Homo sapiens: one gene and its partners. The protein of the gene in region 4 purifies or fractionates together with the protein of the main gene of each other region. This does not show direct contact. Each region holds a gene or a part of one and is shown on either strand. Other genes may lie near its edges.

Region 1 (4,733 bases), on a different chromosome or scaffold from region 4:
CTGAAGTTCCCTGTCTCCATTCTCTAGCACGTGAAATCGCTAAAGAACATTCTCCACTTCCTGACCATGGTTCCCATGGAGATAGTGATCCCCTCCTCTTCACCCCCAGGGCAGGTTGTTTCCATGGGAACTGTCTACCCTGCTATAGGAGAAGGCTATGACCTCCCGCAGACCCTCTGACTCCTTTAGTAGCTGATTTCTTGTCCTCAACCACCCGCCTCCTGTAAGGTGCTCCTATAGGGGGTGGAAAAGGTGATGGTGCTGGGGTGTGAGTTGTCTGGGTCAACAAGGGTTGTTGTGGGAGTAGAGGCCCTGCTCACAGGTGCTTCCTCTCCTCTCCCTGGGGTGGGGCCAGCCAACAAGCACAAGCCATGGATTGAGGCAGAGTACCAGGGCATCGTCATGGAGAATGACAACACGGTCCTACTGAATCCACCACTCTTTGCCTTGGACAAGGATGCCCCGCTGCGCTATGCAGGTAATTGGGATTGGGGGATGGCAAGGCAGGGTAGGACAGAGAAAAGTGGGTGGGAGGGCCAAGAGCAAGGGAGGGAGGGAAGGTCCTGGGAGTGATGAGAAAGTAAGGGAAGATAAAAGTGGGCTCAAGGAGGGGAATGGTCTCCACTGAAGAATGGAGATTGAGTCAAGGATGCCAGAAAAGGACATGGCCAGGCAAGGGTTAAACACATCATGATTTTGTCAGATCTCAGGTCTGGAGGCTCTGGGAGGTTGCTGCTCAGGGAAGCTGGGCTTAGAGTTGCGTGTTTGATCATTAATGCTTTTGTGCCTACAGGAGAAGGGACAGGGCTTTGGGAGGAGAGGTGGAGCTGGACCCCAGGTGGGGAGACTGAGGGTGGGGAAGGAGACACAGCAGCCTCACTCCTCCCCTTCTCCCCTTTGCCAGGTGAGATCTGCGGCTTCCGGCTCCATGGGTCTGGGGTGCCCTTTGAGGCTGTGATCCTTGACAAGGCGACAGGAGAGGGGCTGATCCGGGCCAAGGAGCCTGTGGACTGCGAGGCCCAGAAGGAACACACCTTCACCATCCAGGCCTATGACTGTGGCGAGGGCCCCGACGGGGCCAACACCAAGAAGTCCCACAAGTGAGGAAGTCCTTGTCTCCTGCCCCATGTGTTGCAGGGTCCTCCTCCCTGCTCCCAAGCCCACCATCCTCTGTCCGTGCGGTCATCGAATATCCACCCCCACCCGCTGCTGTTCCTAGGACTTAGGGAGCCCCATCCCCTGCTGTTCCTAGGATTTAGGGACTTTCAGGCAAGGTGACAGAAACGTATAGTAGAGTTCAGTGGATCTAATCTTGGCTTTGCCTCTCATGACCTTGGGCAGCCTAGCCTTTCTGGACTTGCTTTTCCTTATCTGTAGAATGGAGATTGTGATGACACCTACTTCATAAGGCTGCTGTGAAGATTCAAGGAGATGGTTTGTGTTGAAAGCATGCACCACAGTGCCTGATACACGTTGAAGGGCACAGTACATGGGCATAATGATGAGGAGGAGAGCAAGAAGGAAGAGGATGAACACACTCAGCATGCATCCAGTTCCCTTTCAACTGCCCCCTCCAGTCTATTTGCAGTGTATACCACACACACGATCCCTATCATACACATATAGCTCTAGGTGAGGGTGGGCAGGCGATGGTTGTAGCAAGAAAGAGGCTCGGGTCTGGGACACCTACGCTTGTTGCCAGCTAACTTCTTATTTGAGAATAAGAGAAAGATCTTCAGTCAGGATTCCTGAGCCACTAAGAGGCACTAGAGATAAAATGCTCTTTGTGACTCAGTTTCCCATTTGAAGATAGGACCCTTGCCTCTGGGGCCTGGGAGCCTGGGTCTTGGCCTGGGGCAGGGCTCAGCATGAAGGGCCTCGACCCAGCTCTGCTTGCCCCGGTGCATGACTAGGGAGGGGCCGCATGTGCGGGAGGCAGCACTGCCCACACGTACTGTGCAGACATGTCAGATGACTTGTGACCTTTGTACACATGCCATTTCCCTTCTTATGGCTGGTTTTAATTTGGCTTTTACTCTGCATCTTCCTTGCTTATCCCCCCGGATCTGACTGTTGTGAAGGAAGGCCCTGCTGGATTTTATGCCTTACCCCTCCTCTTGGCACCCTGACCCATAGCATTTTGCACAGAAGTCATCAAAATCAGCTCCTGAGCACCCCTGGGCCTTGTTCCTCATCCCCTACATCAGTCCTCCTTTCTTTGGGCCCTCCCTCTGGTGTTGTCCTCTCCCTGGCATGACTTTGATGCAGCTTGGTGCCCTGTGGGGTGGGGAGGAGCGTGCTGACTGCCTCAGTCTCAGGGATAGATGGGCAGGCTCCCTCCTGTTCTGGCTCTCCGTCGGGATTCCTGCTTGCTCCTTTCTGGCATATGGGTGTACCGTGTCGAGGCTGTACCTTGGTGTACAGTATAAGGCTGTATCTCGTTGTGCCCATATTGAGGCTGTTTGTTGGTGTACAGTATTGAGGCTGTATCTTGGTGTACGGTATCGAACCTGTCCCTCCATGTGCCGTATCAAGGCTGTATCTTGATGTACCGTATCGAGGCTGTACCTCGGTGTGCTGTATCAAGGCTGTATCTCAATGTATAATGTCGAGGCTGGCTGACGTGTCTTCATCCCTCCTTCTCTCTGGCATATGCAGGGCCACTGTGCATGTGCGGGTCAACGATGTGAACGAGTTTGCCCCAGTGTTTGTGGAACGGCTGTATCGTGCGGCTGTGACAGAGGGGAAGCTGTACGATCGCATCCTGCGGGTGGAAGCCATTGACGGTGACTGCTCCCCCCAGTACAGCCAGATCTGCTACTATGAGATTCTCACACCCAACACCCCTTTCCTCATTGACAATGACGGTGAGTCCACCCCTGGCTTCCCTGGCCACCCAGTTCCCCTTGAGCACCCACCTCCCTCAGGACAACCCAGGGTTGCATTCTCCACTTTTGCCCCTCAGACCCTCACCTCACCCTTCTTCCCAAATGGAGCCTTCTCCTCCCAGATGCCTTTTTTCCCAGCGTCCTGCTGCCTAACCTGCCTGCTGCCCGATGATCTCAGACATCCTCCCCTCCCTGCCCTGGGCTTTCTCCAATGCTCTAATGCTCTGTCCTCCTGACCCCACCCCAGGGAACATTGAGAACACAGAGAAGCTGCAGTACAGTGGTGAGAGGCTCTATAAGTTTACAGTGACAGCTTATGACTGTGGGAAGAAGCGGGCAGCAGATGATGCTGAGGTGGAGATTCAGGTGAAGCCCACCTGTAAACCCAGCTGGCAAGGTGAGAGCTCAGCGCTGTGCCCCATCTTGTGAATCATCTTTTTTCTTGGTCTCTCTTTCTGTCCTTTCTGACAATCATGGGGGCCAGGCTAGGGCTTGGATGATATTGGGGCAGGCTTGCAGCTATCTACTCTAGCCGGGCCATCCTGCCAGGAGCCCCAAACTGTCCATGGACATGGCAAGAGGAGCATGGAGAGGGGAGGCTGCTTTACCCTTCTCTCTCCCCATCACCCTCTCTGTCTCACCCATGCAGGCTGGAACAAAAGGATCGAATATGCACCAGGTGCTGGGAGCTTGGCTTTGTTCCCTGGTATCCGCCTGGAGACCTGTGATGAACCACTCTGGAACATTCAGGCCACCATAGAGCTGCAGACCAGCCATGTGGCCAAGGGCTGTGACCGTGACAACTACTCAGAGCGGGCGCTGCGGAAACTCTGTGGTAGGTGTGCCCCCAACACTGCCTCAGGCCTATCCCTTCCCATCCAACCTCTGTCCAAACTTTTCCAAGACTCTGCTTTACATCACCACTGGCCATCCACAGGTGTTTATCCATAGAGGTTGTGACACGATTAGCATTTGCGGCCCAAAAGGCAGGTACATATGTCTTTGGCAAAGATGCATAGTCATCGCACCAGACAGTCACCGGATGCATGGTGGAACAATGGTAGGGCGAGATGAAGAGTTGGAGAATGGGTTAACTGGAGAGATACTCTTAGAAGTGAGTTCATCCCTCTCTTGTCTTTGAAAGGCCATAAAAGGTGGCAAGACGTGCTGTAGGAAATCTTTTCCCATCAGTCCCTCTTTCCCTGCCTCCTGCCCTTTTCACCATCTGCTGCTTCTTGGCTCTGACACTTGTGCCTCCTGGGGCTCCCACAGGTGCTGCCACTGGGGAGGTGGATCTGTTGCCCATGCCTGGCCCCAATGCCAACTGGACAGCAGGACTCTCGGTGCACTACAGCCAGGACAGCAGCCTGATCTACTGGTTCAATGGCACCCAGGCTGTGCAGGTGCCCCTGGGTGGCCCCAGTGGGCTGGGCTCTGGGCCCCAGGACAGCCTCAGTGACCACTTCACCCTGTCCTTCTGGATGAAGCATGGCGTAACTCCCAACAAGGGCAAGAAGGAAGAGGAAACCATCGTATGTAACACTGTCCAGAATGGTGAGCCTCCCCTCCAGGCACTAGCCAGAGGGGGAAACTGGCTTCTTGTCCCGCCTCTGTCACTGCCCAGTGTGTGACTGTGAACAGGTCACTTCCCCTCTCTTCATTTGTGAGGTGCAAGTGCCAGGTGTGATATGCCTTGATTCTGTGCTTTATCCCCAACATGACATGTTGGATCGTACTGCTGTCAGAGTGCAATGGGATTCCTTGCTGCTACTCTTGTTTTCAGTTGCCCAGTCAACTTCTCTGTGTCCCACCATGTGGTAGGCTGTCCCCACCCCCCATCTCCAC
Region 2 (4,733 bases), on a different chromosome or scaffold from region 4:
GCCCAGGGACCCCAGGAGTATGCTCGGAGCCCCAGGCCTGACCTGGCATGTGCACCATGCGGCAGTTGCAGTTCTCCACCAGGTAGCGCGTCTCACAGTCGATGCGGCAGGCAGTGATGCTGTAGGAGTCGAAGAAATCCAAATCCGAGTCCATGGTAACAGCTTTGCAGGTGCCCCAGGGTGGGGGCAGGTAGATGAGCTGCTGGGAGAGCCGGGGAGCTGGGGGAGTGCGGGGACTTCTCCCCAAATCAGCTTGATGGACTCCTCTGACAAGATGCAGATCTCTGGAGTTCTGCTCCCCTCTCCCTCTGCAGCCTCCAAAGGTCTCAGAGTTTACAGAGCATTCTTGTTCATTCGATCACTCATGCTTCTGACTAGCCAGATTACCACCCAGGTCCTTGCTCACCTGTCCTTCCCATTACTGATTGCCCACCACTCCATCTGGACCCCTCAATACCCCACCCCAGGACCAGCCTCCCATGGCCCTCTCACCCGCTGCTCCTGGCAGGCCACAAAGGTCTGGAAGCCTGGGGCCACGCCAAAGCCCAGCTGGTCGATGAAAGGAGGTTCATCCTGACTATGGATCTGCACTTTGATGCCTGCTTCGAAGGACGTCTCGTCTAGGGGAATGAGGAGTGTGTGGGTTGGGAGGGCTCCTGACTCCCTAACACCCCTCAGACCTGGGGGCATCCTACCTCTCCTGGAAATAAGCATAGGGTGCACTGGGGCTGGGGTGGGGGAAGTCTATAGGGTCCTAGCCCACCCCCTAGCCTCCTTCTGGGTTTACCAGCTCTGAGCTGCTCCGATGACCCCTGTATCCTACACACTTCTTTTCTTACCTGGCTTCTGCTCTGCATCTTGATGTTTCAAATACTTTCTCCCAGAGTGTCACTGTTTCAGATGCTCTCCATTTCTCCCACTCCCTTTTTCCCTTTTCCCCCATCTCTCTCTGCCCCAAGGCCCCCCGAGACCAGACAGGCAGGCAGCCCGAGAAGAGAGGGAGTTATTTATAGAGTGGCGGCGGCGTTGATGGAAGAGGATGGCTGGTTACCTTGGAGAGTAACTGAACCAGGAAGTGGGAGCCAGAGAGATGTGAGTGTGGAAGTCAGGTAGAGTCAGTGATAGAGATGGTGAGATGCTGGAGGGAGAGGGGAAAGCCCGGGCCCTGCCCAGGTCTCACAGTGAAGCCCAGGAATCCCCTGGCAGAGGCTGGGGCCTAGAGCCATGCAGAGGGGCCCCTGAAGTGGGTGACGTACCAGTCTCCCCCCACACAGGCAGGTACTCGTCCTGCTGGATGTCCAGCATGATTTCCAGCCCATTGCCCGTCCCACCCTTCATGGTCTTCAGCCGCGGCCGCCCATCTCGGCCCGAGTTGAACGTGTAGCACTTTCCATAGCGTGTGAAGACCTGGCGAGGGCAGAGTGGAGAGCCTAAGAGTCCTGCCAGCACCCTCTACTCACCAAGGGCTGTTCCTAGCCACCCCAGCTGTTGGAATCTCAACACCCTTTGGGAATGGTTCCTCCCGTGCAGCCCATTCTCCATTTGCTCCCCTCTCCCACCTGTTTCTCACCCTTTCTTGCCCTCTGTGTGCCCTGGAAAACTGTTCCTGGTAGGGTGCATCGCCTGAGCTCCTTTGCCACCTGCATGGGCTTCTAGTTGGGGTTGACAGTTGGGAGGTATTGGTAATGGCTCAGAAGGCAGGAGGAAAGATTGGGGTATGAATCCTTCCCCAGCCCTCGCCCCTCTGTAGCTCTAGTAGTGCCTTAGGCCCTCCATGATTACAGATCCTGCCAGGGCTCCCTACAGAGCACTGTCTTCTTTTGTGCTTCTTCAGCCTAGAAGTGATAACGATTTCCTAGTACTGCTCACTGCCTCAGTCCCCCTTATTGGTTTCCTTAACCCTGCCCCCAGCTCTGTCAGCAGTCCCTTTGTTAAAGTCTTCAATTAAATCATCAAGTAGCTGTCTTTTTCCTGCCAGGACCCTGACATATACATTTTCATCACCAGGATCCTAACACGGCCCCTCCTTGGGACACTTTCCTCAGGCCCAAGCTCCTGAGGCCCTCCAAGACATATCTTCTCTTCTCCTAGATTTCACTCTGGGAATCTGAAATTCTGCTTTCCCCAAGACCCAAACTCAGTTTTTTTTTTTTGGGATGGAGTCTTGCTCTGTTGCCCAGGCTGGAGTGCAGTGGTGCGATCTCAGCTCACTGCAACTTCCGCCTCCTGGGCTCAAGTGATTCTCCTGCCTCAGCCTCCCAAGTAGCTGGGATTACAAGTGCACAACATCACACCCGGCTAATTTTTGTATTTTTAGTAGAGATGGGGTTTCACCCTGTTGGCCAGGCTGGTCTCAAACTCCTGACCTCAGGTGATCCACCTGCCTCAGCCTCCCAAAGTGTTGGGATTACAGGCATGAGCCACCGTGCCCAGCCAAACTCAGTTTTTTGGTTTCATTCAGCCCCTAGCCCCTTGGGTCCATCATTATTCCATTATCCCATTATCAGCAGAACCTGAAAGTAGACCCAGTTGCCATGCCAAGGACCACACTCAACCAAGCACCAGCACCTCTTCTTCCAGCACTTGGGACTGAGCCCCCAGGGCATGGTGTGTGCGTTAATGCTTTTGCAAAACTAGGAGGGCCTCAGAAGATATCTCAGCCCCAGGGGCTGTCTCCCCAGTCTTCTCCCCACTCCATGCCCCAGTGCAGCCCTGGTCACAGTGCTGATTAAAAAGCTGCAAAGAGAAAAGTAAACCAGTTATCCTTGGCCTTTTCCCCACAGCCTCCTTGAATGTCCCCAAGTTGGGGTGGCTGTGCTTTTACTACTGCTGGATGGTGACAAAGTCCACAAAACAGGTCATAAGGTGAGTCAATACAGCCCAGAGCAGGGGAGAGACAAAAGAGTTTCAGGCCAGACTGGAGCAGCAATGGCAGTAGGTTACTAGGGAATACGGTCTTTGCCCCCTTCCCCCTTCCTAGAACAGCCTCCTCCATTGACCTCCAGAAGAGGAGACATACTGCTCTCCCCACTTTGTGGGTGAGGTCCAGAGATGAGGCAAAGAGAGAACTCCAAGGGCTCCTAGTCCCCAGCCCCATGACCAGGTCTTGCGGCACCCAGCCACAGGCTCCAGGCTGGACATATGCCCATGCCTACACTCCATCCGGAGTTGTATGGGATTAGAGGTGTCTGAGGCCGGCTAGCAGCCCTGTCTTGCGCCGGTTCAGAGGACAGGGCTGCTGTACAGTGGATTGCTGCTGCCACCTGGTGGGCCTGGGTGAGAACTGTCTGCTCTACTCTCGGGCCCAGAGGTAGACACATTCCTATGGCTCCTGGCCTGAGGCCCAGTGGCCCAAACCCCCAGGCCCCTGTATGCCTGCAGTCATCCCATGATGCACGGGTATGATGACACCCCCTGCCCCTACGCTAGGGAGGGGGTGGAGGACTGAGGGATGGGTGTGTGGGGCAGGGAAGGCCTGGCATCTGGGAGCTGGTGGGGCAGGAGAGCAGTCAGGCCAGACAGACCTGGAAGATGAACTTAGGAGAGACAGTGGGGTACCAGGTGGCCCCCCAGCAGGGAAAGCCCTGGACCCCTGGGTGGGGGGCCAAGCAGAAGGACAGTTCCCAGTGAGAGCTTCCCCTAGGAAGAGGGTCCCTGGCCACTTAAAGCTGGGGAGAGGGATATGATTTAGAGACCTGTTATTTACCCTCAGACACACACACACACACACACACACACACACACACACACACACACACAGAGCTGGTGGGGGTGGGGCGTCCATAGGAGGGCACAGGAAGACCAAGTGAAGATGCAATGAAGTCCCTGCTGCAGGAGATGCTGACAAGGGCCATGGTGGGGTGGGGTTGGGGGATATCCCCACCCCTCTACTGTCACCCTTTCACTCCCTTCTCTTGTACCACCAGAGACCAGGCAGCACCCACCCCAGCTTCAGTCCATGGGTGCTAGTCAAAATAGTGAACAACTGGCCAGGCACTGGCGTCCACCAACAGATCAAAGGTTGACCTCACAGATGGAGCAAGGTCCCGGGCCCTGCTGGACCATGAGGAAGTCTTGAGAAGGGCAGGTAAAGCTGGAGGACATGTTGGGAGGCAGCAGCAAAATACCAACTAAGACAGACGTGTTTCAAGATTCTAACAGGAAAAGCAGCACTGGTGTGGACCTGGGAATACCAGCCCAGCTCCAGGCCCCGGACTCCTGGGTGAGCTCTGGCCTGTGTCAGCCAGATGAGGTAGGGGGCAGCACAGTCATCAGCCCCAGCCCCAGCCCCAGCCCCAACCCCAGGAGGTGACAGTCAGGGACAGCCATGGCAGACACTCTTGGGGTACTGTGGCAGGCATGGGGCTCCACTCACCACTGAGAAGTTGTGAGGGCCGCAGGGTCCCCCTTGGTAGGAGCAATAGAGCAGCATGTCCTCCAGCCGGTGGCAGGAGCGATTGTAGAAGCGGTGCAGGTTAAAGGGCTCCCCAGAGAAGGCCTCAGGGCCCGGTGGAGCGAGGGGCACCCCGGGGTCATCACTTTCATCCAGTCCCAGCATGGGGGCCAAATAAAGCAAGTCAGGGTAGCTGAGCTGGGACAGCCGCACAGCATTAGTGTTGCAGAGGGTGACTGCCGGGAAGGCCAGCTCCGTGGTGGCCACTTCGTTTAGAAGGGTCACGTGTGGGTAGCTGAGGTAATAAGCAACGCGGTCCCCTACCTGGCACAGGAAGGCA
Region 3 (4,733 bases), on a different chromosome or scaffold from region 4:
TCATGCCTATAATCCCAGCATTTTGAGAGGCTGAAGTAAGAAGATCACTTGAGTCCAGGAGTTTGAGCCCAGCCAGGCCAACATGGCGAAACCCCATCTCTACCAGGAAAATACAAAAATTAGCTGGGCATGGAGGCATATACCTATAGTTCCAGCTACTCAGGAGGCTGAGATGGAAGGATGGCTTGAGCCCCAGAGGCAGAGGTTGCAGTGAGCTGAGATCACGCCACTGCACTCCAGCTTGGATGACAAAGCCAGACCCTGTCTCAAAACAACAACAACAACAAAAACAAAACAAACAAAAAGTGAATTTGAAGGATACTGGTGATGGTAGTTGACACCAGAGAGTGAGACTGGGTAGAAAGGACACAGGAGGCAAGGGCAACTTACTTTTGGGTGTATATCCTTTTGTACTTTTTAAATTTTTTTTACACCGTGTGCTTTTTTATTACCTATACAGGAAAATAAATGTTTGAAATATAGTAAACTCAGGGTCTTTGTTTTCACCATGCTTATTTACTTAGCTACTCTGTTCTGCATTATTTGGGAGAGAACTTGGAGTCTTCGTTATTTCCTTAAGTGTATTTGGCTCCTTTCTGTCCTTTAGGAAACAATACTTGTTTTTATGGGAAGTGCTATTACTGCCGAGAAACAGAACCAGCTTGTGCTGATGGAGACATAATGGAGGGATCTGTCACACTTTGGCTTCCAGATGTGTGGCCTCTGCAGAAGCACCGTCACCCATGGGGCAGGACTTACCGAGAAGGCAAATTGGCCAGGTAAATGCTCCTATGAGCCATTACTTAATTCTCCCCTGTGCCTAGCCAGGTGCCAACTCTGTAAAGGAGCCAGCAGTTCTGTCCAAGAGTGAAAAGAACTGTGGAGTCAGGGGCAAACCGGTAGGTAGGAACTCTGTCTTCTCTTTGTGTGTAACAGTGCCAGGTACAGTGTTGTCACTCAGTGCTGTGATGCTGCTTGTCTCCAGGTGGGAGTATGATGAGAGCTACTGTGATGCTGTGAAGAAAACGTCCCCTTATGACTCTGGCCCGCGCCTCTTGGACATCATTGACACAGCTGTCTTTGATTACCTGATTGGCAATGCTGACCGCCATCACTATGAGAGCTTTCAAGATGATGAAGGCGCTAGTATGCTCATCCTTCTTGATAATGCCAAAAGGTGAGACCAGCAGGACTGTCCTTGTCAGGGAGGGGTTTCTGTATATGAAAGAAGGGCATTTTCCAGAGCATCCTGGAGAATATCCAGAATGCAATTGATAGGCAACATCCTTCTTTTTTCCACTTGGAGTCTTTGCTATTGGTACCTGTCCTTCTCTCCACTCTCAGGGATCTCAGTACTTCAAAAAATGGAAAAGTGGTTCTTCCAAGGAGTCTAAGACTCTATGAGCCTCTTCTCAGACAACTGGAAAACCAGGGTTATTCATTTGTTACTACCTACATCGTTCTTTCTTGGCTATGATATTTGGTGTTTAGAAGCTTGAGAAATACAGATGTAATAGAGTGTGGAATTTGTCGTTAAATTTATTCTATCCAAAGGTTCCTGCAATTAAAAAATTAATTTATTTGGTAGGATGTTTTGCTATTTTTGTGTTTGTCTAGGTCCATACTTTTGCTGTCATGGGAAGAAGAGCTGTTGCCTAGTGTGGATTTTATATATAACAACAAGTTACTTTTATCTTGAATAAAAAATGTTTATTCATTTTGAATAAATAGAATGTCCTTATTTTTTTAGGCCTGAGCTATTTGGAGAGCACATTGTATTTCCATTTCATATTCTGCATTCTCTGTGGTGGCCGGTTTAGTGCCACACTTTTTTTTTTTAAGTTTTTTTGAGACGGAGTTTTGCTCTGTTGCCCAGGCTGGAGTGCAGTGGCACAATCTCAGCTCACTGCAACTTCTGTCTCCTGGGTTCAAGCGATTCTCCACCCTCAGCCTCCTGAGTAGCTGGGACTACAGGCACTCGCTAATTTTGTATTTTTAGTAGAGACAGGGTTTCGCCATTTTGGCCAGGCTGGTCTTGAACTCCTGACCTCAAGTGCTCTGCTTGCCTCGACCTCTCAAAGTGCTGGGATTACAGGTGTAGTGCCACACTTTTAGTTGCATTTAATAAATATTTACTAAATAGAACGCTTCCTTGGAGTACAGAATTTTCCAGGCCCTAGGTCACTACTGTTAACATTGGTTGTTGGAAATAAGCTAAGACATGGCTCCTCAGCAAAGAGTGCTTGGGCAGCATTTGCTAATGATGCCACCATCTTATACTGAACACCAGGCGCCTCATGCTTTGTGAAAGATGGTGATGGCCACAGAAAATGAAAAACCAGCAAACACTGCCTCTCCCTCTACCCCATTACAGCAAAGCACATAGCACTCATCCTGTGATACACATGATACTTGATATTTGGTGTATATCAAAATAGTTGCTTTGTCCACTCGGGCCGCTATAACAAAATCCCTTAGACTGGGTAATTCATAAGCATCAGAAATGTATTGCTTACAGTTTTGGAGGCTGGGAACTCTAAGATGAAGGTGCCAGCAGATTCAGTGTCTGGTGAGGGCCTGTTTCTCAGATGGTGCCTTCTATGTGTCCTCATATGGCAGAAGAGGTAAACACGCTCCCTCTGGCCTCATTTATAAGGGCACTAATCCCGTTCATGTGGGCTCTTCCCTCGTAACTTAATCATCTCCCAAAGGCCCTACTTCTTAATACTGTTGGACTGTTGTACCAGGGATTACGAATTTGAGGGGGACACAAACATTCAGACCATAGCAGTTGCCTTTGCCTTGAATTACTGGAGGACCTACACTGTACTAAGGGCTACCAGACTCTAGCTATTAAGGTGAGCCTCTGGAAAGATTGAAAGGTTGACAGTTTTCCAGAATCAGTTCTCCTTTTCTAACTCTGAATTGCTGCTAAGGTAATTTTTGCATCTGCTGTGAATCAGTTTCCTCAGCCTGTGTGAACAGTTTTTCCAATTTGAATCTGTACTTATACTTACTTGTAGGGAATAGGATATTGCTAATTTGGGAGTAGAATAAGTGTGACTTCTTTTTACAAGTAATGGTCATCTGCTTGTTTGTGGGAATCTAATATAAATGGCTTTTATTTCTCTCTGGTCCTTAAAACCTTTGCAGGCTTAGGGGTCTTCAAGTTCTCCCTTTGGTCTGTGAACTCCGCACTGTGTTTACCATAGTTATGCTCCAGCACCTTGTGATATCTTGGCAGGAAAATGTCCCTTGTAAATGAGTATATTTGTTGTCAGATATTTTAGTACAGGCTGTTAGGGATCCTGTGTCTAATTGGTCATGCCCCGCTTGTTTTCAATTTAAGTGATTTGAGCTGCTGGAGCGTGAAATTATCTAGGATCACATTTGAGTTTCATATAGAATTTGCTATTGCTTTGATGCTAAGAAGAGAACAGTACTTCCACCTAATTCACTAAGTTTTAATTTAATTTTCAGCTTTGGGAACCCCTCGCTGGATGAAAGAAGCATTCTTGCCCCTCTCTATCAGTGTTGCATGTAAGTTATGCACAGCAAATACATGTGCCTGCATTGCCTTCTTTTCCAGGCTCAGGTAACAGTACATCCATTTTCTTGGCCCTCAAACTTTCTGATACCTGAGCAGTGCTTTTCATACTTTTCCAACCTAGAACCTCTGGACATCCTGAAATGGGATATCAGGGAAAGGTGAAGGCAGATAACCCAAAGCTCAGAATTCATCTCAAATTTTGTATGAATAGAAGATTGTATGTATACAGTAATACATGTTTGGTTTAATAGCAGAATATAATCACCCACACTCCCCACCCCACTGCCAAAAAAAAAAAAAGGAGTAAAATCTGTATGCCTGGTTACTACACCTGGTTACCTTGTGGTTTTAACTCCTCTCACTCACCCATCACATACCACCTGGGGTTTACATATTTCAGTTTGAAATTGTCTAAACCAAAAGTAACTTTTTCCATAAATAATAATTTATTTTGGCCAGGCACAGTGGCTCACTCCTGTAATCCCAGCAATTTGGGAGGCCAAGGTGGGTGGATCACCTGAGGTCAGGAGTTCGAGACCAGCCTGGCCAACATGGCGAAACCCCGTCTCTATTAATAATACAAAAATGAGCCGGGCATGGTGGCAGGCACCAGTATTCCAGCTACTTAGGAGGTTGAGACAGGAGAATTGCTTGAACCTGGAAGGCAGAGGTTGCAGTGAGCCGAGATTGTGCCATTGCACTCCATTCTGGGTGACAGAGTGAGACTCTGTCTCAAAAAAAATAAATAATAAATAATAATTGGTTTTTTTAAAAAAACTCTGTATTAGAGAACAGAGAAATTGAAAAATGAGTCAAGAAAATGAGATAAAGTCTAAGCTCTAAGAAGCTTCTTTTCATCATTCCTGAAATAATTTTATTTTACTATTTTATTTTTTATTTTATTATTTTTTTGAGACAGGGTCTGCATCTGTCACCCAGGTAGGAGTGTGGTGGTGCGATCTCAGCTCACCGAAATCTCTGCCTTTCGGGTTTAAGCAATTCTTGTGCCTCAGCCTCCCGAGTAGCTGGGACTACAGGCACCTGCCACCAAACCCAGCTAATTTTTGTATTTGCAGTAGAGACGGGTTTCACTATGTTGGCCAGGCTGGTGTCAAACTATTGACTTCAAGTGATCCGCCTGCCTCAGCCTCCCAAAGTGCTAGGATTACAGGCGTGAGCCACC
Region 4 (4,733 bases):
TAAAAGGATGGAAGAAGATCTACCAAGCAAATGGAAAACAAAAAAAGGCAGGGGTTGCAATCCTAGTCTCTGATAAAACAGACTTTAAACCAACAAAGATCAAAAGAGACAAAGAAGGCCGTTACATAACGGTAAAGGGATCAATTCAACAAGAAGAGCTAACTATCCTAAATATAAATGCACCCAATACAGGAGCACCCAGATTCATAAAGCAAGTCCTGAGTGACCTACAAAGAGACTTGGACTCCCAAACAATAATAATGGGAGACTTTAACACCCCACTGTCAACATTAGACAGATCAACGAGACAGAAAGTTAACAAGGATACACAGGAATTGAACTCAGCTCTGCACCAAGCGGACCTAATACACATCTAAAGAACTCTCCACCCCAAATCAACAGAATATACATTTTTTTCAGCACCACACCACACCTATTCCAAAATTGACCACATAGTTGGAAGTAAAGCTCTCCTCAGCAAATGCAAAAGAACAGAAATTATAACAAACTGTCTCTCAGACCACAGTGCAATCAAACTAGAACTCAGGATTAAGAAACTTACTCAAAACTGCACAACTGCATGGAAACTGAACAACCTGCTCCTGAATGACTACTGGGTACATAACGAAATGAAGGCAGAAAAAAAGATGTTCTTTGAAACCAACGAGAACAAAGACACAACATACCAGAATCTCTGGGACACATTCAAAGCAGTGTGTAGAGGGAAATTTATAGCACTAAATGCCCACAAGAGAAAGCAGGAAAGATTCAAAATTGACACCCTAACATCACAATTAAAAGAACTAGAAAAGCAAGAGCAAACACATTCAAAAGCTAGCAGAAGGCAAGAAATAACTAAAATCAGAGCAGAACTGAAGGAAATAGAGACACAAAAAACCCTTCAAAAAATTAATGAATCCAGGAGCTGGTTATTTGAAAGGATCAACAAAATTGATAGACCACTAGCAAGACTAATAAAGAAGAAAAGAGAGAAAAATCAAATAGACACAAAAAAAATGATAAAGGGGATATCACCACCGATCCCACAGAAATAGAAACTACCATCAGAGAATACTACAAACACCTCTACGCAAATAAACTAGAAAATCTAGAAGAAATGGATAAATTCCTCGACACATACACCCTCCGAAGACTAAACCAGGAAGAAGTTGAATCTCTGAATAGACCAATAACAGGCTCTGAAATTGTGGGAATAATCAATAGCTTACCAACCAAAAAGAGTCCAGGACCAGATGGATTCACAGCCGAATTCTACCAGAGGTACAAGGAGGAACTGGTACCATTCCTTCTGAAACTATTCCAATCAATAGAAAAAGAGGGAATCCTCCCTAACTCATTTTATGAGGCCAGCATCATCCTGATACCAAAGCCGGGCAGAGACACAGCCAAAAAAGAGAATTTTAGACCAATATCCTTGATGAACATTGATGCAAAAATCCTCAATAAAATACTAGCAAACCGAATCCAGCAGCACATCAAAACCTTACTCACCATGATCAAGTGGACTTCATCCCTGGGATGCAAGGCTGGTTCAATATACGCAAATCAATAAATGTAATCCAGCATATAAACAGAACCAAAGACAAAAACCACATGATTATCTTAATAGATGCAGAAAAGGCCTTTGACAAAATTCAACAACCCTTCATGCTAAAAATTCTCAATAAATTAGGTATTGATGGGACGTATCTCAAAATAATAAGAGCTATCTATGACAAGCCCACAGCCAATATCATACTGAATGGGCAAAAACTGGAGGCATTCCCTTTGAAAACGGGCACAAGACAGGGATGCCCTCTCTCACCACCCCTATTCAACATAGTGTTGGAAGTTCTGGCCAGGGTAATTAGGCAGGAGAAGGAGATAAAGGGTATTCAATTAGGAAAAGAGGAAGTCAAATTGTCCCTGTTTGCAGATGACATGGTTGTATATCTAGAAAACCCCATTGTCTCAGCCAAAAATCTCCTTAAGCTGATAAGCAACTTCAGCAAAGTCTCAGGATACAAAATCAATGTACAAAAATCACAAGCATTCTTATACACCAATAACAGACAAACAGAGAGCCAAATCATGAGTGAACTCCCATGCACAATTGCTTCAAAGATAATAAAATACTTAGGAATCCAACTTACAAGGGACGTGAAGGACCTCTTCAAGGAGAACTACAAACCACTGCTCAATGAAATAAAAGAGGATACAAACAAATGGAAGAACATTCCATGCTCATGGGTAGGAAGAATCAATATCGTGAAAATGGCCATACTGCCCAAGGTAATTTATAGATTCAATGCCATCCCCATCAAGCTACCAATGACTTTCTTCACAGAATTGGAAAAAACTACTTTAAAGTTCATATGGAACCAAAAAAGAACCCACATCGTCAAGTCAATCCTAAGCCAAAAGAACAAAGCTGGAGGCATCACACTACCTGACTTCAAACTATACTACAAGGCTACAGTTACCAAAACAGAGATATAGATCAATGGAACAGAACAGAGCCCTCAGAAATAACGCTGCATATCTACAACTATCTGATCTTTGACAAACCTGAGAAAAACAAGCAATGGGGAAAGGATTCCCTATTTAATAAATGGTGTTGGGAAAACTGGCTAGCCATATGTAGAAAGCTGAAACTGGATCCCTTCCTTACACCTTATACAAAAATTAATTCAAGATGGAAACTTAAACGTTAGACCTAAAACCATAAAAACCCTAGAAGAAAACCTAGGCATTACCATTCAGGACATAGGCATGGGCAAGGACTTCATGTCTAAAACACCAAAAGCATTGGCAACAAAAGCCAAAATTGACAAATGGGATCTAATTAAACTAAAGAGCTTCTGCACAGCAAAAGAAACTACCATCAGAGTGAACAGGCAACCTACAAAATGGGAGAATATTTTCGCAACCTACTCATCTGACAAAGGGCTAATATCCAGAATCTACAATGAACTCAAACAAATTTACAAGAAAAAACAAACAACCCCATCAACAAGTGGGTGAAGGACATGAACAGACACTTCTCAAAAGAAACATTTATGCAGCCAAAAGACACATGAAAAAATGCTCAGCATCACTGGCCATCAGAGAAATGCAAATCAAAACCACAATGAGATACCATCTCACACCAGTTAGAATGGCAATCATTAAAAAGTCAGGAAACAACAGGTGCTGGAGAGGATGTGGAGAAATAGGAACACTTTTACACTGTTGGTGGGACTGTAAACTAGTTCAACCATTGTGGAAGTCAGTGTGGTGATTCCTCAGGGATCTAGAACTAGAAATATCATTTGATCCAGCCATCCCATTACTGGGTATATACCCAAAGGACTATAAATCATGCTGCTATAAAGACACATGCACATGTATGTTTATTGCGGCACTATTCACAATAGCAAAGACTTGGAACCAACCCAAATGTCCAACAATGATAGACTGGATTAAGAAAATGTGGCATATATACACCATGGAATACTATGCAGCCATAAAAAATGATGAGTTCATGTCCTTTGCAGGGACATGGATGAAATTGGAAATCATCATTCTCAGTAAACTATCACAAGGACAAAAAACCAAACACCACATGTTCTCACTCATAGATGGGAATTGAACAATGAGAACACATGGACACAGGAAGGGGAACATCACACTCTGGGGACTGTTGTGGGGTGGGGGTTGGGGGGAGGGAGAGCATTAGGAGATATACCTAATGCTAAAAGACGAGTTAATGGGTGCAGCACACCAGCATGGCACATGTATACATATGTAACTAACCTGCACATTGTGCACATGTACCCTAAAACTTAAAGTATAATAATAATAAAATAAAATAAAATAAAGAAATATCCAGGAAGATCAACCCACAGAACAAAGAAAGCTAATAAAGTACATTTTCTTGCAAAAAAAAAAAATTTTATTTTTCAATGTAATACATTAACAACAAAAAGGAAAAAAGTAACAAAAGGTCAAAGGAGAAAGCTAAGAGTTGACATAACCAAGAAGAAAGACCTGAATTCAAAAATGGCAGAAGACAGTAATAATATCACAAGGCTCCTGCTAATCAGGTGCTTTACTTATTATAATGATGACATATTTTCATGTGTTAAATGACATGAGTTTCAGGACAGTCAACAATGCAGGCGCTAGAACCAGGGCACCTGGGTTCAAAATTCTATCTCTGCCACATAACAGCTACATGACATTTTCAAGTTACTTCCTAGTGCTTCTGTTAAAAACGGGGATACTGATTATATAGATCAGAGGTAAACAACTATATTACCGTCAGGTTGCATTTGTTTAAGTCCTCTGTACTCACCAAGGGACTGCGTCCATAACTAAATATTAGCATTAGTATTAAAACAGCAAACAAACAGAGACAGTACTATTACCTACCTCAGGGTGTTATGAAGATTAAATAATACACGTAAAACCCTAAGGGTACTTCTTTGCCTATAGTAAATGCTCAATTTATGTCAACTATATTTTGCTTGTATCCATGATATAGGGTATTAACATTTATTTAAAATTGTATGCAAAAATTACCAGGCATGAACAACAAATTATCTTAGTTTTATTTCTGTGCTTTGGAGATGTATTCTAAACCTACCTATGCATCTATCTATGTACTGGTATAACAATTTTATTTGTATTTTGGTGGGAGAATTTGAGCTCCATGCAAAACTTAAATTTCATGCTTCACAAGCACTGTGAAT
Region 5 (3,500 bases), on a different chromosome or scaffold from region 4:
ATATTCCATTATAGTTATTTAAAAAGTTAAACGTCAATTGTGTCCTGATTATAGGTTTCTTTTGTTAAACATATTGCTTTCAGCAAAAAGAAAGAAAAGTGGTTTAACAGATGACAAAGCCTCTGGCTACTTATTTTAATGGCCTGACCAATGAATAATATGCTATTAAATACTGAGTCAAAGGCCTGATTCAGTAAAAAACTTGGAGATAAGTCGATGAACTTATGATTGAAAGGTTTAGGAAAATTATACTATCTGTGAAAAGGTAGTAATGAATTGTGAGTAGGGTAATTATACTGCATTTGTCTGACAGAATGCTTGGTTAAACAAAGGTGTCCTATTCATAGCAGAAAATAAACACTGTCTCAACAAACAGATGAAATTTAAAGCCCATGAAATTTCTAGCAGCAGCTACGAAAACTCTTAGATCCATAATAATTACAATATGTTAGATGACTAGTTTCAACAGTGTGTTTTCCATTTCCTAAAGAAAATACTTCAAAAGCTTATCACAAAGAAAACAATGTTACATACAGCTGATGTCGTTAGCATAGCATCTTACCAGATTCACATTCCAATTTAGTTCGATTTAAGTCAATTCCATCATCCACAAACTGACAAATTGAAAACAGCCTGCAACCTCTCTGACATGCGTACAACTCCTCTTCCTAGGGAGTTCAAGAACAGGAAGGGTTACCAAAAAATAGTATTTTTTTTTCCTCAGGGGAAAACAGGTTAGGAAGAAAGCAGTTAGTAAAGTTTATTACAAATCGTCCAGTAAGTTTCATAACTGAAAGAAAAAAATGATAGGAGCCAGTTGATACTCAAGACCTTTGCCATATAGAGGTTTTAGTTCCTTATTTTAAAAGTGATACGAAGAAAAAAGCCTAGTAGGTAAAACCACCACCCTTTTTCCATTTTCTTTGGTTACAATCTGTGGGGGGGAAAAATTAAAAATAAAACTAATAGTGACAGGCCAGGTGCAGTGGCTCACACCTGTAATCCCAGGGCTTTGGGAAGCTGAGGTGGGAGGACTGCTTGAGGCCAACAGTTTGAGGCCAGCCTGGACTATATAGCGAGACCCCATCTGTACCAAAACAAACACACACACAAAAATAACTGGGTATGGTAGTGCACACTTGTTGTCCTAGTACTCAGTAGGCTGAGGTGTGAGGATTGTTTGAGCCCAGGAGTTTGAGGGTACAGTGAGCTATAATCACACCACTGTACTCCAGCTTGGGGTACAAAGTGAGACCCTGTTGCTTAAAAAACAACAACAACAAAAAACACAACGGTGATATAACTAGAACTTTAACAGCGATAGGAGTAAGCAAGTACCCTAGGACCAATGGCATACTTCTGCCACATCCCTGTTTATATGAATCACCAGGCTTATCAGGAAAAGTATCAGACTAGCTTCACATGGCAAATGGTGACACAAGGGCCTGATAAAGTAAGGTATACATCTATAAAAATGTTTATATGAAGGGATTTTTTAAAACTGGGCTTACATTAAATGAAAACACAGGAGCAACAGTGTGGTGTATGGGAAAGGACACTGCAATCAGCCAGACCTAGATCAAACCTTTTGGGTGAGTGCATAAGTTATTTTACCTGTCTAAGAATCTCAGCTTTCTCATCAAAAAAGGAGAGAACAGCCATTATCTCCAAATTCCTCAATAATTTGGAAGCTATTTCCAGTATAGTGCCTGGGATGTAGAAGGTGCTTAATAAATGGTAATAGTGTTAATAGATTTTTAAAATAGAAAACAATTACAGGCATCAATGTATACGTGTGAAAGCTTAAGACAGGATGGACATCTGGTTCTTCATTACTGTAAAATATTAACTGCTTAATAAGACTAATGTCTTCAGCTGTTTTTCTTTGATAAAATAAAAGTATTTAAAAAAAGCTATTGCATATGGGGGAGCCCCCTCGACTTACTATGTGATCCACTGTGTACAAACTGGCAGACACCTAATAAGGAAACAGCATGTGCATATACCAGTTAGCAACCAATGAAATACAAGCTATGTATTTCTTTCCAGCAAAAGGATTAGTAAAATTTACGCAGCAGCAACAATCCATCAAGAAGAGATGCCTGCAGTCTAATATTAAATATACTTTATCATACAACTTTGAAGGTAGCACACTTTTGGACCTCAGTTCCAACTGCATTTACTGTTAAGATGAAATTGAAAGAATTTTAACAATTGAGATAGATTTCATATCTGAGTAGCTGTTGCAGGCTTTGTAAAACAGTTAAAGAATTATTTTATGTCTCTGGAGCACCACATATTTCCTTATATTGCACAAAGGAAGCATAAGCTCATTAGTATGAGCTATACCACATGCCATTTCATTCTCAGATATGCTTTCCTTTAATAAGTCATCCAGTACCAATTTCGGAAAACCATATGGCATGGTGAAAAGAGCCGAGGTTTCAGGAATCGGCCCTGGTTTGAAGCTCAGACTTGCCACTTATTCTGCACAACCTTTGACAAGTTACTTAATCTAATTCCTCAGTTGTAAAATAAGGACAATACTCTTACATCAATCCTAACTACTATTCATTTATTTTCTACTGCCTGTATAATTGCAGAGTGTCAATCTTCACTATTAGGAGAATTATATATTTATATCTACAATAGCATTACTACTATGTAGTACTATCTAATAGACAGACATATTTAATGAGCATCCACAATGTGCCAGGCACTGTATTAAGACTTAACAAATTATGAAACATCTGGTATGGAGCAGGCACTCAACTGGTAGCTATCAAGAATCATATCTTTATTCTAAGTATTTCATGTTATATATACAAAAATAATGATTTCAAGTAAATATTTCATGCCCTATGTATCCCAAATGACTGGCAAGTTTATATAACATGTATCTCCTCTGATTTAGGACACAATAAATAGTGCTTCCACCATATGAAATACCAGCTAAATTCATAATTAGAAGGTCCCTCAATGGTACTATTTAGGCCAGGCACCGTGGCTCATGCATGTAATCCCGACACTTTGGGAGGTCAAGACATAAGGACCCATTCAGCCCAGGAGTTTGAGACCAGCCTAGGCAACACAGCAAGACCCTGTTTCAATTATTTTAAATTAAAAAATAAATAAATAGAAGTTAAGTGATCAGCAAGGACAAACAGTAATCAAGGAGCTGGGAATAAAACCAGGTCTGTATGGTTCTAGAGACCACACTCCATTAAAAAATGACCAGGCTGGCTCTAATTAGCTTTTTTATTAACATGATTTATGTCTCTTGTTTTTTCGACCGAGATAAATTATGCAATTGCACTTCTGTAGATAAAACATAGAATAATTTAAAAATAACTATTTACAAACAGGTATTCTACTTTCTTGCAACAAATAATTAGTTCTCAAAAAGTGTCTGAGATTTCTTTTTTTTTTTTCTTTTTTTGAGATGCAGTCTTGCTCTGTCCCCCAGGCTGGAGTGCAGTGGCACAATCTTGGCTCACTGC
Region 6 (4,733 bases), on a different chromosome or scaffold from region 4:
GAGGGGGGAAGGTGAGGGGAGGGGGGATGGTGAGGGTGGGGGGAAGGGGAGGGGGAAGGAAAAGGGGAAAGGGAAGGGGAGGGGAAAGGGGAGAGGAGAGGGACAGGAGGAGGGGGAGGAGAAAGGGGAGGGTAGGGGGAGGAGGAGGGGGAAGGGGAGGGGAGGGGAAGGGGAGTGGAGGTGGGTGGGGAGGGGAGGGGGAAGGTAAGGGGAGGGGGTGTCTTCCAAGAATGCAGCCCCCAGGAGTGTGTGGGGCAGGCAGGCTAAGGAGGGAAGACACGGAGTAGGAGAAACCAAAAACAGCAACCTCAACAGAAACCATGAAAGAATGGTCTGGAACCGAATCTGAGAAAAGGCAAGCATGCAGATTTCCACAGACTTTCGAGGTGCCCCAGCCTGCGGGCACCTGAGGGTGGGCAGACTGGGCAGGAGGGACTGCCTCGCCGGCAAGCGGCGCTGGCTATGCTGCCTGGGGCCGGCCAGGGTGCGGGGCAGAGGCAGGGTGCAGGGCGCAGGCAGGGGCCGGGCCACTTACACTTGACCTGCAGGATCTGGTCACTGAGATTGGCTTGGAGGTAGAAGGTGCTGTAGGGTGGGAGCACCAGCCCCAGGCTGAGGGGGGAGAAGCTCGGGTCACGGCTGGGGGGAGGCGGGCCACACTGGCACCCCCTCCCCATGGCCTTGGAGCTGGGCAGAGGCCCCAGCTGCAGCATCCCCTCCTCCCACCACCAGGGACCCCTCTCCCCGCTTAGCTGCAGGAGGTTCATGGTCTAGGGGCCGGCACCCTGGAGGCTCTCCACTTCTCAAACTCTCCTGGGGGCCACCGGGCAACCAGCCCCAAAGCAAATCCCCACACCATCTCCCCTCCCAGCAGCCTCTCACAACAGCCCCCTGCCCAGCCAACCTCCCTCTGACCCACAAGGGGCAGACGCTGCCGTGAGCTGGCTGCAATGCCAGTGTTGCCGTGGGAGTGGGGTCACCAGCCCCCAGATACTCAAAGCCAGCAGAAAGCAGGGCTGGCGCAGATATGGTGGGGGCAGGGGGTGGCAGTTGTGGGCTGGCATGGGCTGTGAGGATGCCCCGGCATTTCAGGATGGACTAGCTGTGTGGGGCAGGCAGAGGTCAGCCTGCACTGACCCAGCCTGACACACAAGGGACCTCCTCTGCCCTGAGACTGTGAGGCAGGCTGACAGCATGCCAAGGGCAGTATCCTGGGATGAGGAGACTTTGGATGACTGTGCTGTGCTCTCAGACCTGCTGCTTGTTCCTTAAAAGCCAGGGAGTCTCTTGGCAGACTAAGCATCTCAGGGTGAGTAGTGAGCAGCCCTGGCCACTGGTGCCCCACTGGGATGGTGGTCACAGTGGGAGAGGGAGGGGACAGCTGGGCTCAGATTCTGGGGCCACCCCACCCTCTCTGCCCGCCCAGCCCTGGCCTCACTTACCTGTAGTTAGTGCTCCTTATAGGCACCCAGGTGTAGTTCCGTGTCACCTCATCTATGTACCTCTGGGAGAGGAGGCTGGGTCAGGTACTTGGGCTAGCAGGCAGGGGGCGCTGGGGTAGAAGGGTGCCCACCCTGACTCCCTGGCCCCCAGCCCTGCCTCCTTACCTCATCCAGGGACTTGACCAACGTTCTGATCTGCTTGTGGCCCTTGTTGCCATCAATCATGCTCCGACGGATCTGGAAGGGCCAGAGATGTGAGGGGCAGGGCCCCTACACTCCTCTGCTCTGTCCCCCACCCCTGTTCTCCTCCTCTCCTTACCTCTTCCTTGTTCTCATCCTCTAGCTCCGCATCCAGGAAGTCCAGAGTCACAGGCTCCCGGAAGTTGGTGGTCTGTTGGAGGCAGGGTGGGAAGTCAGAAGTCCCCATTGTGGAAGGTTTGCCCACCCTCCAGGCCACCCGTCTGGCTCACCTGGGGCTTGAGATTGGGGTGCAGCAACACGTAGCCGTTCAGGTCAATGGCAAACACATAGCCGTTGGCTCCAAGCTGGAGGCACAGATTGGGGGCTCAGGGTCTGGAGGGATGGGCTGGGGTTCCCTGGGCTCCGGAGTTCTTCCCTATTTGGCCTCCCACCGCACCGAGAGATTCTGTTTGCCTGCCTTGGGCTAAGGGCCCCCCCATGCCACGTGGCCCTAAGCCTGTCTCTCCAGCCAGGCCCGCAGGCGGGTTGCCCCTTGTGCACCAGCCCTTGCCAAGGCTAACCGGCGTGTGGGCTGCTGCTCTGCAGTCCTCATCCTCTCCCCCTGGTTCTCATGAGCTGTCAGTTGTCCTGACCTCTCTGCCACCACCGGCCCCACAGGTCTGCTGCTTCTGTACCCCTGTGGCCCTCCTCTAGCCACTACTGCCCCTGATTTGTGCCTCCTCCTTGTCCCCACGTCAAGAGAGAGCAGCGGGACGAGTGGACCCTTCGGAATCCTACCTGGGGCTTCCCTTCCAGGTGGAAGGGAAGTAGGAGTAAGTGGGACCTGGACCTAGCCCTTACCTCCCCCAGTCAGTTTCTTACTGTACCTGGAGGCCAACTGCCACAGCCCCTGCCCACTCAGGGCCAAGCAGAGGCTTCAGGGGGGCTCAGGCTTAATGATGCTGTTGTACATACCACACCTCTCCCCCTTCCACAGGCCAAGATGCAGACTCCCTGACCGCAGGCGCTGGGCCAGCCACAATGCCATCTTGCCCCTACCCTGGTTTATGATTGTTTTTCACCTTTGGGCCCTTGGCCAGAGAATTCCCTCTGCCTCCAATGTACGCCATCCCCTCCTTTCCTTTCTGCCTGGGACACTCCTGCCTATGTGCATGGGCCAGGTCTGGCCTGCTGCCCATTACTATGTGGCCATGAGCTAAGAATGGTTTTATGTTTTTAAATGGCTGGAAAAAACATCAAAGGAAGAATTCTATTTTGTGACATGTGAAAATTATCTGAAATTCAAATATCAGTATCCACAAATAAAATTAAATTGGAACATAGCCATGCCCATTGTTTATGTTTTGTTTGTGGCTGCTTTCACAATACAACAGTGCAACCGAGTAAGAGATGGGTATGTAGGTCTGCAAAGCCTAAAATATTCAGTCTGGCCCTTTACAGAAAGTTTGCCAACCCAAGGTCACCTTGTTCTAGACCCAAGGTCACCTCCTGGGGAAGCCTTCCCCGACCCCTGAACTCAGAGGTCTCCATGGAGGCGCTGTAATACCCATCAGTCTTCTCTGCTGAGCCTGCCTGTGTCCACATGGGAGGCAGGGTACGCGGATGGGCAGGGGGATGCTCACCGTGTAGTTGGGGGTCAGCCTCTTGATGTCATTCAGAGCCACGTCAATGCCCATCACGCCCAGGATCAGCTGGTTCTGGGAGCAGAAGCATGGGGGGCTCCTCAGTGAGCTCAATTCCATGGGGAACCACCCTCCACAAGGCCTCAAGCTGCTCTCACAGGCAGTGTGCAGGCCTGCCCTGCCCCTCTTCCACCCTCAGACCTGCTGTGGGCATGCCCATTCCTCCCCAGGCACACCCATAGCCCCAACCCTCCCCTTTCCTCACCTTCTTTTCCCCAGGGCCATCCTGTGTCAGGTTGAAAACAGGGAGGGTCCCTGTTACCACCAACCCCAGTCCCTGAAGGGAGAGGAAGATGATGGAGTCACCTGTGGCCAGCACTGACCCCACCCTGAGTGTTCAGAGCAGGGACTGAGGTGCAGGCCACCTCTTTCTCCTGTGCTTGGTTTACCCCATAAGGGGGCCCTCCAGGGTCTTGACCCTGTGGGCACATCTCCGGGGGAAGGGTGCCAGCCCCACCCCTTCCTTGTCCAGAGGCCTTACCAGTGCATCCTCATACACGTTGGTCCACTGCACCTGCTTGGCCTCCTTGCCTGCCAGCACCATGGGCCTGCCCAACACATCTAGATATTCCTGGGGAGGGGGCAGTGGTGGGGGTAATGAGTGCCTTTCCCAGGCACTGCCTGTTCTGTCTCGCCAGGCATTGGGATTGTGCCCCAGCCACTGTGAGGGGGCGCCCTTGGCCCACAGCAGCCCATGGCACACAGCGTCCCTGCAGGGAAGCCAGGGGCTGGGAGGAGGGGCCTCCCCAAGTCTCACCTGTGTGTTGATGCGGATGGCTCCGATGGAAGGGATCTCAAAATAGTAGCCTGTGAAGGAAGGAGAGGCAGAGGTGGGCCTGGCTGGCACTGCAGGATCCATGTGCAGAGGGCCCTGCCCCTGGGGTGTGTCTGCAGCCCTGCCTCGCCTCTTGGGCTCCTCTCTTTTTGGGGTCCTCTCCCTCTAGTGCTCCCGGCCTCTGCCCTGCCAAGGGCGGTGCTATGGAGAGGGAGTGAGTGCAGCAGTATCAGGAAGCAGAGCAGGGGGCAGAGATGGGGAGGGAGGAGCCTGAGGTCTGAGGTCCCTCATTTTAGGGTGCAATGCCATTCAAAGTCCACCCGGCAGCCAGGCCCAAGTGCACAGAGAGATGGACGGATCAGCAAACAGACGCAGGAGTAGACAAGCTGGGGGACGGTTGGACAATGGACAGACAGACGGGCAAAAAGAGGCTCAGTTAGGTGGACCCGTTAGCCCCCAGATAGAGTGAGGGACAGCCTCGTGGATGGGAGGAGGCACACTGTCTTGCAGCGGGTGAACACACAGCTGGACATATGGATGGCCAGTTGAACATACGCAATCGACAAAAAGAAATGGCAGGCAGGCCCCTGACAGTGATGCGCAGGGGAGGTACCTTTGTTGGCACAGGCCATC
Region 7 (3,646 bases), on a different chromosome or scaffold from region 4:
GCCCCCTTGCCCATGAAATTGCCAGGGAGCCAACATGACAGACTGGGAAGGCGAGCTGTGAAACAGAGTAAGATGCCGATGGCTCAAATTCCTGTGGCCCTTCTTTAGCCTATTTCCCCAGGAAAACCTCCAGTCAGAATGGCCTCTACATTTTGTCCCTTAGGAAGACACTTTGATTGTCCAGGAAGGGAAAAGTAGGTATGGCAGTTGCAGAGTGGGGGAACACTCTTAGTCCATCCACTGAGCAAGTTGATGAGGTAATGAGAAGTATTTGGAGCAAGGAAGTTGACAGCTCCAGTGCTTCCAAGTCTTAAGATTCTGTATCCATTACCAGGTCAGAAGTCTGCTGTAAAACAGTTACCTGGCTTAAGGGGCTTGGCTATTCAAAAGCAGGTCTGTGCCTGGGTGAGATAAGCCTTTTTCCTCTGAGGGAGACTCAGTGGGCCGGGCACAGCAGGGAGCAACCACACCCCAACTTGGACCACGGACAGTCTCACTCAAGCCCCTAGGACTCCCTGTCCCTTGGCAGTGATACAGCGGAAGGAGAGACATGCAGAACTGTGCCCACACCAGCAGGCTGTGGGGACAGGATCACACATGCCGCACAAACCATAGCGACTGTTAAGAACTTGAGCTAAAGGCAGGCAGGCCCTCACCCCCCGAATTCATCACACCACAGCCAGCCACATATTCCCTAGCAGGGGCTCCGTGTCTCCCGGAGCTGAGCTCCATGGAAACAACTCCCACCCACACACAAAGGTCCTGTCTTCTCTGGGATTTTTACAACCATTTTCTCTCTCCATGGTATTAGCTTTTGGTTTGATTCTCCCAACTATTAATAGATTATAAGTCCCTACTCTTCTATTTCATTTCACCATTGCCCTCAGACCTCCTCGCATTTAACATTTGGCTCTACACTGCATCCGACTGTGGGGTTTCCCCAGGATGCTCACACACATGGCATGATATGCAGAATGTTGTTCTTATTTCCTTCAAAATCCAGTTTTTTTTAAAAAAAAAAAAGAAGGAAATGGGGAAGTATTATTAGGCAGGAAAATAAATCCACAAAGGGCAGTATTCATGTCACTAAAAAGCAAACAAATGAATAAAGACACAGAAAAAAAGTGTTATTTCATTCATTAAAATTTTTATTTTGAATAGCTTCAATCAAAAAAGGTTTCATAAGATTATTTACAATGCTGAATGTACAATTATGAATGTATGCCTTTTTGACAAGAGGGTACCATTCTTGAGCAGCAATACAATTTTAAAAATATAAAGATGCAGTATCATTTCTGATATAAAGTTACTTAAAAAAATCCAAGGTCTTAGGGAATTCACAAATCATAACTAGAAGTAACTTTTATTAATTTAATGTACACATAATTACCAAATTTTAATACATTAAAAATGTGTAAATGCCCACAGACTGTACAAAAATTAACACCCCATTTTGTTAAAAGTTCCCAACCACCTCCCACCATAAATATACAAAAACCTATTTTTAGATATGTCAAAATTGCATGCATGAATATTTTCTAAAGCTTGAATTTTGCTCTTCACTGGATAATGTTATCTATAGCTGTTTCTGTAACAGACTACATAAACATTGATATATTATTTACCATGCCTTTGAAACTGTGCAGGACTTTCATAAACATGGGGAACAAAATAAATAGAGTAAAAACTGCAACAGTTTTGTTTAGATGCAAGTGCAATTGGGAAAGCTTTCGAATTTCAGGATTATAAAACTACTATAAAAGTATTTATTCTGTTGTTGGCTTAGCCACTTGTATTCAAGCATTATTTGCAGCATTGCTTTACAGCAGTTGGTGCTAGAAGATACAAAACATATAGTTACCACTATTTATACTTGAGGGAGAAAAAAAACTTTAAACAACCCTGAGGGAGACACACATTAAAAATCTTGTTATTTATTTAAAAAGTTAAAAAGTTACATATCATTATTTAACAATTACTTTCCCAGACATTTCTGTCCTTTAAGTATGTGCATAAATAAAATTTAAATCAGCAATATTCATCTTAATACATCAAAATAATATATGTACAGATTTTAAAATTTAGGTCTGTATAAACTCAAATAATTTAATGTGAAATTCAGAATCAAAATTACTATGTAATGGTAACCTACGAGAGAAGACTCAGTCTATCTATGGCACTGAGTAGAACCCACACCTGGCTTCACAGGCATTCTTCAAATAACATTCTCAACGTGAATAACCCACCTTGTCTATATTCAAATCTAACTTCCTACAAATGCTTTTCCAGCCACCTAAACACCTCATTCCTTTGAAAACAATATGGACAGAAGAGATATAAAACCCTTACTAACTCTAAATGTTAAAAAAGTGGGGGGGGGGTGTCAAAAATAGCTCTTTATGATCATGCTCTTAAAGATGTTAAATACAATCGGATAATTGAATTTTTAAGCTGCTACTTAGCAATTACTTTCATTATATGCTTCAGTACTTAAACCAAAGAATAAAATGCACAATTGTGGAAATCACTGAAGAATAACACGAGCATATTTGAAATTAATATGGAAATTATAAAATGATCCAGAGAATAAGTAACTATAGAAAATAGTGCTAATTCACAGCTCAAGAGGTCTAAGATGCATAGCTTCATAGAATCATTCATGGAACAACTGTTATCATCTAATGTGTATTAATAGCATATTATACATTTGATGGAAAACTTCGATTATATTTTTGCAGGAATCATCAGTGGCAATAGCAGTAACAGTGATCCTGAGTGTAATTTCTATTTTTCTATAGTTACCAAACATCATCCAGGTCTTTGCAGCATAAAGAGTGAGAACCATTTGGTCCTAAAATTCTAGGTAAAATTTGGTAAATTTGTAAATATATGTTGGGAAAAGAATGATCAGCTAGAAGTAGAAAGCACGAGCAAGCATGTTACTGGCTCTGGAAGAACAGAGAACAATGTCACACTGTTTTCATAGTTTAGCGTCCATTTTATAGCACGATCAGTTTTCTGTGTTGTGGTAACTGTGGGCGTTGCCAGACTGCTGGATCCACCTATAAAAGGTGTTTTTTAAAAGTTACCTTAATTTTGGCAAGAATTTAAATGTTAATCAGGCCAAACAGAAAGGTGAAAAATGTTTCTCCACATCTCTTTTGGCTCAATGAATGTCAATTTTTTAACTTTATTTCCTCAATTTTTTTTCTCCCAGAAATTTCCGCATCAAATATGCTCATTTGTAACGATCCAATTCAAAATAGACATGTTCTGACCTCTGGCGCCACCTAATGGCATAAAACAAACTCATCAAATTCATATTGCTTTGAAAAAACGGCAGCCATTCAAATCCAGTATTTTTTAAGCCTCATTATTGATAAGACAGAGACATACATCAAACCTCAAAAAATTTTATGAGGTAAAATTCTAACTTAAAAAAAACTATTATCCTATGTCTTTAGGTAATTGAAAACATAGAAGAAAATTTTAAAAAACCATTTAAAATAACACAAAGCCTGACAGAAACAAATTTGAAGAAACGTTAAAAGATGAATCTACATCTACTGCCGAAAGAAATGAATCTTATTTCCTAGTGAAAAAGGTTCTACAACATTTAACAGAAGCAAATTAGACTGCCAACACC

Evidence for each region.
Region 1: the proteins of B3GAT2 (region 4) and CLSTN3 purify together in Homo sapiens (affinity purification with mass spectrometry; one large-scale study listed by BioGRID and IntAct). This does not show direct contact.
Region 2: the proteins of B3GAT2 (region 4) and ASIC1 purify together in Homo sapiens (affinity purification with mass spectrometry; one large-scale study listed by BioGRID and IntAct). This does not show direct contact.
Region 3: the proteins of B3GAT2 (region 4) and FAM20B purify together in Homo sapiens (affinity purification with mass spectrometry; one large-scale study listed by BioGRID and IntAct). This does not show direct contact.
Region 5: the proteins of B3GAT2 (region 4) and TMEM59 purify together in Homo sapiens (affinity purification with mass spectrometry; one large-scale study listed by BioGRID and IntAct). This does not show direct contact.
Region 6: the proteins of B3GAT2 (region 4) and CACNA2D2 purify together in Homo sapiens (affinity purification with mass spectrometry; one large-scale study listed by BioGRID and IntAct). This does not show direct contact.
Region 7: the proteins of B3GAT2 (region 4) and ATP13A3 purify together in Homo sapiens (affinity purification with mass spectrometry; one large-scale study listed by BioGRID and IntAct). This does not show direct contact.

Annotation. Positions count from the first base shown.
Region 1 is NC_000012.12:7,132,669-7,137,401, forward strand, and holds part of CLSTN3 (calsyntenin-3 precursor), read left to right. Parts: intron 1-355; coding exon 356-478; intron 479-904; coding exon 905-1,100; intron 1,101-2,658; coding exon 2,659-2,867; intron 2,868-3,135; coding exon 3,136-3,285; intron 3,286-3,537; coding exon 3,538-3,723; intron 3,724-4,160; coding exon 4,161-4,442; intron 4,443-4,733. UniProt on the Homo sapiens protein: Postsynaptic adhesion molecule that binds to presynaptic neurexins to mediate both excitatory and inhibitory synapse formation.
Region 2 is NC_000012.12:50,073,887-50,078,619, reverse strand, and holds part of ASIC1 (acid-sensing ion channel 1), read right to left. Parts: coding exon of another isoform or gene 4,376-4,733; intron 1,653-4,375; coding exon of another isoform or gene 1,560-1,652; intron 1,408-1,559; coding exon 1,257-1,407; intron 621-1,256; coding exon 493-620; intron 203-492; coding exon of another isoform or gene 200-202; coding exon 43-199; intron 1-42. UniProt on the Homo sapiens protein: Forms voltage-independent, pH-gated trimeric sodium channels that act as postsynaptic excitatory receptors in the nervous system, playing a crucial role in regulating synaptic plasticity, learning, and memory.
Region 3 is NC_000001.11:179,063,320-179,068,052, forward strand, and holds part of FAM20B (glycosaminoglycan xylosylkinase), read left to right. Parts: intron 1-607; coding exon 608-779; intron 780-985; coding exon 986-1,177; intron 1,178-3,480; coding exon 3,481-3,540; intron 3,541-4,733. UniProt on the Homo sapiens protein: Responsible for the 2-O-phosphorylation of xylose in the glycosaminoglycan-protein linkage region of proteoglycans thereby regulating the amount of mature GAG chains.
Region 4 is NC_000006.12:70,946,369-70,951,101, forward strand, and holds part of B3GAT2 (galactosylgalactosylxylosylprotein 3-beta-glucuronosyltransferase 2 precursor), read right to left. Parts: intron 1-4,733. UniProt on the Homo sapiens protein: Involved in the biosynthesis of L2/HNK-1 carbohydrate epitope on both glycolipids and glycoproteins.
Region 5 is NC_000001.11:54,046,705-54,050,204, forward strand, and holds part of TMEM59 (transmembrane protein 59 isoform 2 precursor), read right to left. Parts: intron 669-3,500; coding exon 563-668; intron 1-562.
Region 6 is NC_000003.12:50,374,202-50,378,934, forward strand, and holds part of CACNA2D2 (voltage-dependent calcium channel subunit alpha-2/delta-2 isoform b precursor), read right to left. Parts: coding exon 4,714-4,733; intron 4,133-4,713; coding exon 4,083-4,132; intron 3,897-4,082; coding exon 3,807-3,896; intron 3,603-3,806; coding exon 3,531-3,602; intron 3,341-3,530; coding exon 3,266-3,340; intron 1,988-3,265; coding exon 1,913-1,987; intron 1,834-1,912; coding exon 1,762-1,833; intron 1,680-1,761; coding exon 1,608-1,679; intron 1,505-1,607; coding exon 1,443-1,504; intron 613-1,442; coding exon 536-612; intron 1-535. UniProt on the Homo sapiens protein: The alpha-2/delta subunit of voltage-dependent calcium channels regulates calcium current density and activation/inactivation kinetics of the calcium channel.
Region 7 is NC_000003.12:194,401,547-194,405,192, forward strand, and holds the end of ATP13A3 (polyamine-transporting ATPase 13A3), read right to left. Parts: 3' UTR 1,131-3,646; downstream 1-1,130. UniProt on the Homo sapiens protein: ATP-driven pump involved in endocytosis-dependent polyamine transport. Uses ATP as an energy source to transfer polyamine precursor putrescine from the endosomal compartment to the cytosol.